2 separate regions of the Homo sapiens genome follow, and region 2 is linked to region 1. The links come from fine-mapping of genetic effects on gene expression. A gene starts in region 1. The other region holds a variant in brackets. All regions are shown on one strand. Distances are between the middles of the regions.

Evidence for each region. PIP is the estimated chance that this variant, and not a neighbour inherited with it, causes the effect. A credible set is the group of variants that fine-mapping cannot tell apart.
Region 2: its variant is the best candidate, but not a certain one, in a credible set for the expression of LAMP5 in esophagus muscle (GTEx, PIP 0.69).

Annotation. Positions count from the first base shown.
Region 1 is chr20:9,512,208-9,516,612 of GRCh38, forward strand. LAMP5 (lysosomal associated membrane protein family member 5) reads left to right here and starts at 2,383. Exons shown (of 6, transcript NM_012261.4): 1 at 2,383-2,709; 2 at 3,246-3,418; 3 at 3,793-3,924; 4 at 4,049-4,154. The coding sequence starts at 2,646. LAMP5-AS1 (LAMP5 antisense RNA 1) reads right to left here and starts at 2,791. Exons shown (of 5, transcript NR_109957.1): 1 at 2,557-2,791. RefSeq lists an enhancer at 3,318-3,902.
Region 2 is chr20:9,486,163-9,490,567 of GRCh38, forward strand. No RefSeq gene overlaps it. Among named protein-coding and RNA genes, the nearest start is that of LAMP5, 26 kb to the right of the region's middle. The variant ACT/A (reference allele first, on the strand shown) is at 2,045.

The DNA.
Region 1 (4,405 bases):
AATGACCTAACTCCTATTGCAATGTATCACAGTGGATAAGATGATAAATTAATGGGCATTTGTTAGCCATGTTTAAGATTAAATATTAAAAAAGTCATTAAACTGATTGTGCTTTGAAAATAATCCCCCCAGAAAAAAAGAGTTAAAATTGCTTTCTTTCTTCTTTCAACCCATTTGAGTACTCTAGGGTACACTCTCCAGTGTCAACAAAGAGATCATTTATATCAGGTATAATTTTCAAAGGAACAACCATCTCATTTGTAAATCAACTACTACATTTTAAGATCAATGACCAATGCTACTACTCACCTAATCTTTTATTATTAAGGCAGATAATCATGAATTAATTCAGTTGATCTTTTAACAACTTATATAGTGAAGATATCTGCAATAACATACTGCAAGAGAAATTGTCAAAATCTTTTATAGGTGTCTCTCCTACTTGTGTAATGATAAATATCTTTTGGTTTTCAAAGCATCAAGCATACTGGAAGTAGTAAGTATTCGGTTAATGTTTATGGATCTATTTGTACTTTGTTTATTTATACTCATTGGCCCATTTGGTTTAACTAGCCATCCCCTGAGTTATTTTCCCAATTTTTCAGATGAGAACAAATAAAATCTTCAGAAGGTCACAAAAATAATAAGTAGTGAATCCTGGACTGAAATCTACTCATTTCTGTCCTCATAAAATACTGGAGAGAGAGAGAGAGAGAGAGAATAAATACTTTATTACATGTCTCATTGTTTTCCAGTTTTACAGTACTACAGGAAAATAAGTGTTTAATAATAATTGCTAACATGAAAAAATGTAACACATACAAATGTTATCTCTTCCACTTTCAACTGATGAGAACTGACGTTTTATCAATCTTCTGTATAAAATCATTTCTGTTAAGTTCTGTAAAATTTGCATCAATTCTTCTATATATAATCATCTTTGTAAAGTTCTTGAGAAATGTTTGGATGAAATACTGAACTACAAACATAAAAGTCAAGATGTCAAAATATAATGTCAATTTTAATATTACTTTATACTTTGAATTGCTAGTGATCTAATGATTGATATAGGAATATGTTTGAAAGCCAAAAACATTATATAGATACTTTGTGGCAGATATGTCAGAATGTGATTATACTTAAAACAGCATTCTATAAATTTGAAGAATGTGAATTAATGATAGAGATTTCAGATTTCAGATTATTATTTGATATTGAATATAGATTTTTATGGAAGTCAAAATATGGAGTAAAAATATTATATAAGGAGAAATGAAGATAATCTCACAGAGTTAAAGCATGTGATTTTTGTATTTTAATTCTAACTGACCATGTGACATTTGGGAAGGTCATTTAATTTATTTGAGCCTCAGTTTTGGGGTATGTAAAACCACAGTAACTCATATCTTTCCTTGCCTACCCTCTAAGATTGGGGAGAATCAAATTAGATAATGCAGGTGAAATACTTTGCAATTTTCCCTTTAATATGACATTGTTTTATAACATTATATTACTGATGCAACATTTATTTGCATTATGAAATATCTTCTAAGGAATAAAATATTTGGACATCACTACAATTGATGAGGACTGCATGTGTATTTTTGAAAGCTGTATTCTGATTTACAGAGCAAAAATAAAAAATAAGCAAGCTACCAAATATGTAAATACAGGAATTAGCCCAGTAGTATTTGTTCTTCTGTTCCACTACAGGCTTTAGAGTAATATCAGTGTGTGTTTTTCTTACATAACTATGTGACATTACTTAGGGCATAATTCTAAAATTTCTGTCCTAGGAGACACTAGATAACTCTCAAAAACTTCTGATTTGCTTGCATCCCTTTTTGGCAGAGTGGTCACAGTATAATGCGGGAGGGTAGGTGACCCCAGAGTTCAGAGTCCTCATGCACCCGGGAGCAAAATTCACAGGAAAATAAGCCCACATGGAGCTACTGCATTGTCTGATGGCCTCGTTCGAGGAGGCGTCAATTTAACTTTAAACCCATGAGCTCATTGAGAGCAGGGGAGAGAAGGGGATGTCTCCAAATTCAGGAAACTGTTGCCATAGCATTTTCCCTTCTCTATTCCTGCATAGCCCTCCTCCCCCGAATCAGCAACAATTTTTGCTCCACCGTTTTCTTTCGGGAACCAGATGCGTTTTCAGAAGACAGTACTCCAGTGATAAGGTATCTACACCACTTAATAACTGTACCTGGTAAGGAGATTTAATAAGGCTGAGGGTGGTATTAAGTTTCTCAGAACAGACTCATCTTTGCGGATGCAGTTGCAGAACAGGAAACAGACCCAGGGAGAAGTTTAGTCCCCCCAGATCTCATTGGCCCTCCGCACAAGCCAAGCCACAGCCACTCCTGCCACACAATCGGATTGCTTTCAGCACTCGCAGCCGTGGACCGCCGTGCGGTCCTTTCCTCCGCAGTGAGCCGATTTGCTCTGCCAGCAGCTGTCGGTGCCGCGCTCGACACCGAGTCCTAGCTAGGCGCTCACAGAATACGCGCTCCCTCCCTCCCCCTTCTCTGTCCCCCGCCTCTCGCTCACCCCGGCCCACTCCAGCGGCGACTTTGAGGGATTCCCTCTCTGGCGGCCTCTGCAGCAGCACAGCCGGCCTCATTCGGGGCACTGCGAGTATGGATCTCCAAGGAAGAGGGGTCCCCAGCATCGACAGACTTCGAGTTCTCCTGATGTTGTTCCGTGAGTAGCGATTTGGCGACTGGGAGAGAGGACGGGCACTCTTTGCAGAGAACAGAGCCGGCAAAGTAAAGTCAATTAGCTTGAGATAAAAAATATGGCCCTTAATGTTTTGCGGTGTTTTTTCTTTTTTTCTTTTAGGGGAGGAGGGAGGGCCTTCCTCGCCGGTGGCAGGGAATTCCCCTGAGAGCCATACACCTCTGTGGCATATTCCAGACAGAGCCTAGACAGGCCAGCTTCGTGAGGTCAGAGCATTGGCAAGAAATATTTACTTTAAAATCCCAAGATGTAGAAAACAGCCAGCTATATTACAAACAAAGTCAGGATTTTTAATTTTTTTAACTGTATTTTCATTATAAATTAACAGCGAAGGAATGAGGCTTGTTAGACCCGGGTTAGAGAAACGGCTCGTAGAGCGCACAGCTGCTGGCAGAGAACTTTGTCACTCCAAAGCCTGCAGAGCACTGTCTCCCCACCCTAGCGCCCGAGACGCGTGGGCTGAGCCCTGAACTGATGGAATTGTTTTGTTTGTTCCGCAGATACAATGGCTCAAATCATGGCAGAACAAGAAGTGGAAAATCTCTCAGGCCTTTCCACTAACCCTGAAAAAGATATATTTGTGGTGCGGGAAAATGGGACGACGTGTCTCATGGCAGAGTTTGCAGCCAAATTTATTGTACCTTATGATGTGTGGGCCAGCAACTACGTAGATGTAAGGAATCTTTCCCCCCCCTCAGCTTGCTCCTAGGGCTCCAGGGCGAAGGGCACCCTTCCTCAAGGCTCTTCGAAGACCTGGGTTGCCCGCCTTCTTTCCCACACCCCGGCAGGCTGCTCCCGAATGCTGCATGGGGATTCCAGCTTGTAATGCCTTCTGTTCCCCTGCCTGCTTTGAAAGTAAACCCCCTTCTCTCCGCTTCCCTATCGGGGCTGCACGTAGAGCATCTAACCGCATGTTCCCGGAACCTGGGATGCGCGCGCGCAAAGGAGCGCCCAAGCGTGCAACCCAGAGTTTGGACGCGCCGCCCTTTACAGCCCCCGCCCCGGGGCCGGGCGAGCTGAGGGGGCGCGGGGCGTCTGTGTTCCCAGCTGATCACAGAACAGGCCGATATCGCATTGACCCGGGGAGCTGAGGTGAAGGGCCGCTGTGGCCACAGCCAGTCGGAGCTGCAAGTGTTCTGGGTGGATCGCGCATATGCACTCAAAATGCTCTTTGTAAAGGTAACTCCGAGCCCAGCGGGCAGAGGGGCCGCAGGCTCCGCGTGGGTGTGGGAAGTGGCGGCCCCTAGGTTTAAGAACCCAGACGCTGCGGGGACGATTGAAGCGCACCTCCCCGGCTCAACAGGAAAGCCACAACATGTCCAAGGGACCTGAGGCGACTTGGAGGCTGAGCAAAGTGCAGTTTGTCTACGACTCCTCGGAGAAAACCCACTTCAAAGACGCAGTCAGTGGTGAGTGGAGGCTGGCATGGCTGGGGAGGGAGCCTGGGAACTCGCAGAACAGGCTTGGAGAGAGAATTCCTCAAGGTTTTGGAAACCGTCCCACGCTTTGAGGTCCCAGGCCAAGTCTTCCCTCGGCTTGCTCTTTAGGGCGGAAGAGGCGGGAGCGCCCATGAGTCTTCTGGGTCTCAGGCCTTGTAGATCCGCCAGGAACCGCAGGCGTGGGGACCCAAACGTCACCCGTGGCCTGATCCTAGATAAGA
Region 2 (4,405 bases), 26 kb before region 1:
TGTCTGCTGTTCACTTCCTCTAAGCTGGACTGCTGATGATTTCAACTAACTTTGTCATTTGACAAACACCTCCTCCTCCTCATCCTCCTCCCCCTCCTTCTTCTTCCTCCTCCTCCTACTCCTTCTTCTTCTTTCTTCTTTGACTTTCTCCCTCCCCCTCCCTGTCTTTTCATTTTTTTGGTTTGCTTCTAAACCTTCTCTCTTTTTCCTTTGGGCTCCCTGGTCACTCAAATGACCTCCTGCCACAGTCTTGGATGCTAATATTAAGTAGCTGCTTTCGGACTGGTCTGTTTGAGTTATGGGTCCTAAAATTGCAGATAAACGGGGAATTACTTTACCACATTACTTTGTCCAATTGCATAAAATATGGGACACAGATTTTTTAAATGCAATAGTCTAGCAATGGAAATATATGGTATTGAGTAGTTAGACTGATTTTAAAGCAAAATTCTTAAAAGAAAAATATAGGAGCATATATTAGGTATTAATAAGAGGAATGTATTTAAATATATTTCGAATAATTTAAAAGTATATTATGCTAAATAATATATGCTGAAATAAAATTCAGCAAAGTAAAAATATTTTCTAAGGCTTGGAAGTCTATTAAGCTAAACGTCTGCCAATCTTATGTCCCAGCAATTACACTCTAAGAGTAATGAGTGTAAGCCAGACATGGTGATACACACCTGCAGTCCAAGCTACTTGGGAGGCTGACAATATAATTCAAGGCTATGCCTCCTCTTTAATCCCAGAGTACAAAGTAGTGTTCTATGATCGCACCCAAGAATAGCTACCACACCCCAGCGTGCAATACGTAACGAGACCCCATCTTAAAAAAGAAGAAGAAAAAAGAAAAAAAGAAATGAGTGTATTGTGTATGTGTTCATCAAAAAGCATGTTCTTTATTCATAATAATAAAAAGCTAGAAACAAATCAGATGTGTACCAATAGGAGGATGCATTGATGAAATGTAGTATATTCACAGGGTAGAACACATGAAAGTACTTACCTTATGATTCCACATACATGAAGATCAAGGAAAGGCAATGCTAATCTTGAAGGAAGTCAGAGTAGTGGTCCTCTCTGAAAAAACCTTCCAGGATGATGGTGATGGTCTATGCAAGTGGTTCTCGAAGTGTGTATCAAGGATCCCTTGGCAAGCCATTGTGTCCCCCAAGAGACTGTCAGAGGGTCTGTGTAGTCCTCTTGTTTCCAAATCCGTCTCTGTGGGAGGCCAGATTTCTTCATATACTGCAGTGAAAATGACATATCACAACAGACCGAATGAAGAAAAAGACATTAGAACTCAGATGACTTCTGTAAAGCCATACGTTAAAGACATTTGCAACAATGTAAAACAATGCCACTCCTCCCACCAACTTTTAGAAAATACAGTTATGTTTCACAAAAAAGTTATTGTAATAGTACAATATTGGTTATATATTAACAAGTGACAGTTTTGTTATTTTTATTGAATTGAGAAATATTTTGAAATTCCTGTTTCAAATTTTTAACATAGTAATGCTTACAGATATAATTCACATAAACAAACTCTGAGTTTTTTAAAAATATTAAGAGTGTTAAGGAATCCCTGAGGCCAAAGATTTTGAGAACTGCTGGTCTATAACTTACGCTGCGTGGAGGTTACATGGGTGTTTATACAGGTAAACATTGATCAGGGAATCAGGGAATACACCTAAGATTTGTGTCTTCCATTGCATGTATAATTCTCAATTAAACCCATGTTTTAAAAATATAGCAATAGATATATGTTCATGGTATAAAGAGAATGGGGGGAATGAAATATAATTTAGTATACAAAAATACATATACACATTCAGAAGACCAATAGGGATGATGCCAAAATAACAAAGTTTACTTCTGAAGCCTGTTGCCTAGTGGAAACCATCGAAGAGGCATAATTACTCAGAAGAGTTTTGAGCATAAAATTAATTCAGCAGGCTTTGCTGCTCCACAAGGAAACTATTCTACTCCTCTCAAAAGCCTGTGCTGAGTGAGGGAGGCAGAGTTGGATGTGGAATAG[ACT/A]CTCTTTATTCTTCCCTTCTAGCATTTTCCATGCCAACTCTCCAAGTCTGCAACAGAAAATGATTTGAAACAATACAAGAGTAACTTAAGAGAGAGCCTCTCACAAGGGACAGGAAATGACACACCCGAGAAAAATAGCAGAAATATCCACTTAGGAAAGGTGGCAGCTGTCAGATTAAAGAGAACCCAGATGATGAATTTGGCATAAATTCTCCCAAGGGGATCTGCAGTAACATTAAATGATAGTGCAAAGCAAAATGGAAATGGGTGCAACTGGGATCAGCTGAGATAGATGAAACTTTCTACTTGTAGAAGTCAGTGTGGCAATTAACAGTCTAATTTGGGATCCCACTGACTACAGCTTAGATCCTAACTCCGCTATTCACTAACTGCGGACTTCAGGCATCCTACTTAATGCCGCAGAATTGGAGCTTTCCATCTGTAGAATGGATGTAATGCCACCTACCTCATGGTGCTGCTGTGAGAATCAAGTTAGCTTTTGAATCATTTAATACATACAGTTCCAGGCATATCCTAAGTGTTCAAAGAGTGGTATTTTGAAGATCATTTGTGGCTGTGTTTACCTTTTTAGCTGAGAACTCCTCTTCATCTTAATACATACTCTATAGAAACTCTTTTAGGAATTTTAAAATAATATCATGTCATTATTTTTGCATGATATATAAAGGTATGATTTTAAATATTTGGAAAAATGTATTAGATTGATATACTTTTAATAATTGGTTAGCAAAGTTCATTTCAATAAGATGTTTAATAGAGTAATATTCATTAGATACCTCTGAAGAGACAAATTCCAACTTTTTCAGTATACCAAGCTTTAAAGGAAGATAATACATTTTATTTATTCATTTATCAGTTAATAGATATTTGGGTTGTTTCTGATTTGGGGCTATTATGAATAATGTTGCTATGAACATTCACATACAAGTTTCTGTGTGGATGTATGTTTTCTTTTCTCTTGGGTATATACCTAGGAGTAGAATTGCTGGGTCACATGGTAACTCTACGTTTAACTCTTTGAAGAACTGCCAGACTGTCTCCCAAAGTGGCTGCGTCATTTCACACTTCCACCAGCAGTGTATGAAGATTCTGAGTTCTCTACATCTTTGTCAATACTTATTACCTTTTTTATTATAGTCATCCTAGTGTGTGTGTCGTTGGTATCTTATTATGGTTTCGACTTTCACTTCCCTGATCCTTAATGGTATTAAGCATCTTTTCATGTGCTTATTGGCAAGTTGTATATCTTTTTTTGTAGAAATATATATCTCAGAACCTTTGCTCATTTTAAATTGTGTTGTCTTTTTATTACTGAGTTGTAGGAGTTCTTTACACATTTTAGATACTAGTCCTTTTTCAGATATATAATTTGCAAAATTTTTCTCTCATTCTGTGGGTTGCCTTTTCACCTTCTTCATGGTGTCTTTTGAAACACAAAAATTTAAATTTTGATGAAGTTCAATTTGTCTATTTTTCTCTTTTGTTGCTTGTGCTCTTGGTGTCATATTTAAGAAACCATTGCTTCATCCATGGTCACTGAGATTTATGCCTGCTTTCTTTTAAGAGTTGTATAGTTTAATCTCTTACATGTAGGTCTTTGATCCGTTATGAATTCTTTTTATATCTACTGTAAGGGTGAATGCCATTCTTTTGTATATGGATAGCTAGTTGTCCCAGAACCATTTGTTTTTGTTTTTGTTTTTACATAAGTTCTAGAGATCTACCGAGCCTCTGTTGAAAAAACTTTTTCTCAATCAAATTGTCTTGGCATCCTTGTCAAATATCAATGGATTACAAATGTGGAGGTAAACTCACTGTTAAACTCCCATCATGTCCATTGGCATTGCTTAAGATGTGGATGACCTTCACCTAGCCAAATCCCATGTGTCTCTTCTACATGCTCATCAAAACCTCTCTGCAATGTTTGACACAGTCAACCATTGCCCCATTCTTGAAACACTCGCTTGTCTTTGTCTTCATGACCTCAAACTATGTGGAGGCACAAACTTCCCATGCTCCAGTCCCACCTTATCTAACAAAATGCTTTCTTTTCTTCCTTTCACGAGAAAAGATGGATCTCAGGAATCTTTTGTCTATGATGCTTCCATCCCATGACACCCTTCCAAATTCTTCCCTACTCACAATGGAATGCAGAATTTATGACCCAGACCACGTCTGTTAGCCATTAGTTCTAGACTTTTGTCTTTTACACACTTATTCTTATCACCTCATGTAGATTGCAAGTTCACATTGTATTCCTCTTCTATTACTGCATAACAAATGACCACAGAGTTACTGCAAACCCACTTACTATCTCACAATTCTGTAGGTCAAAGGT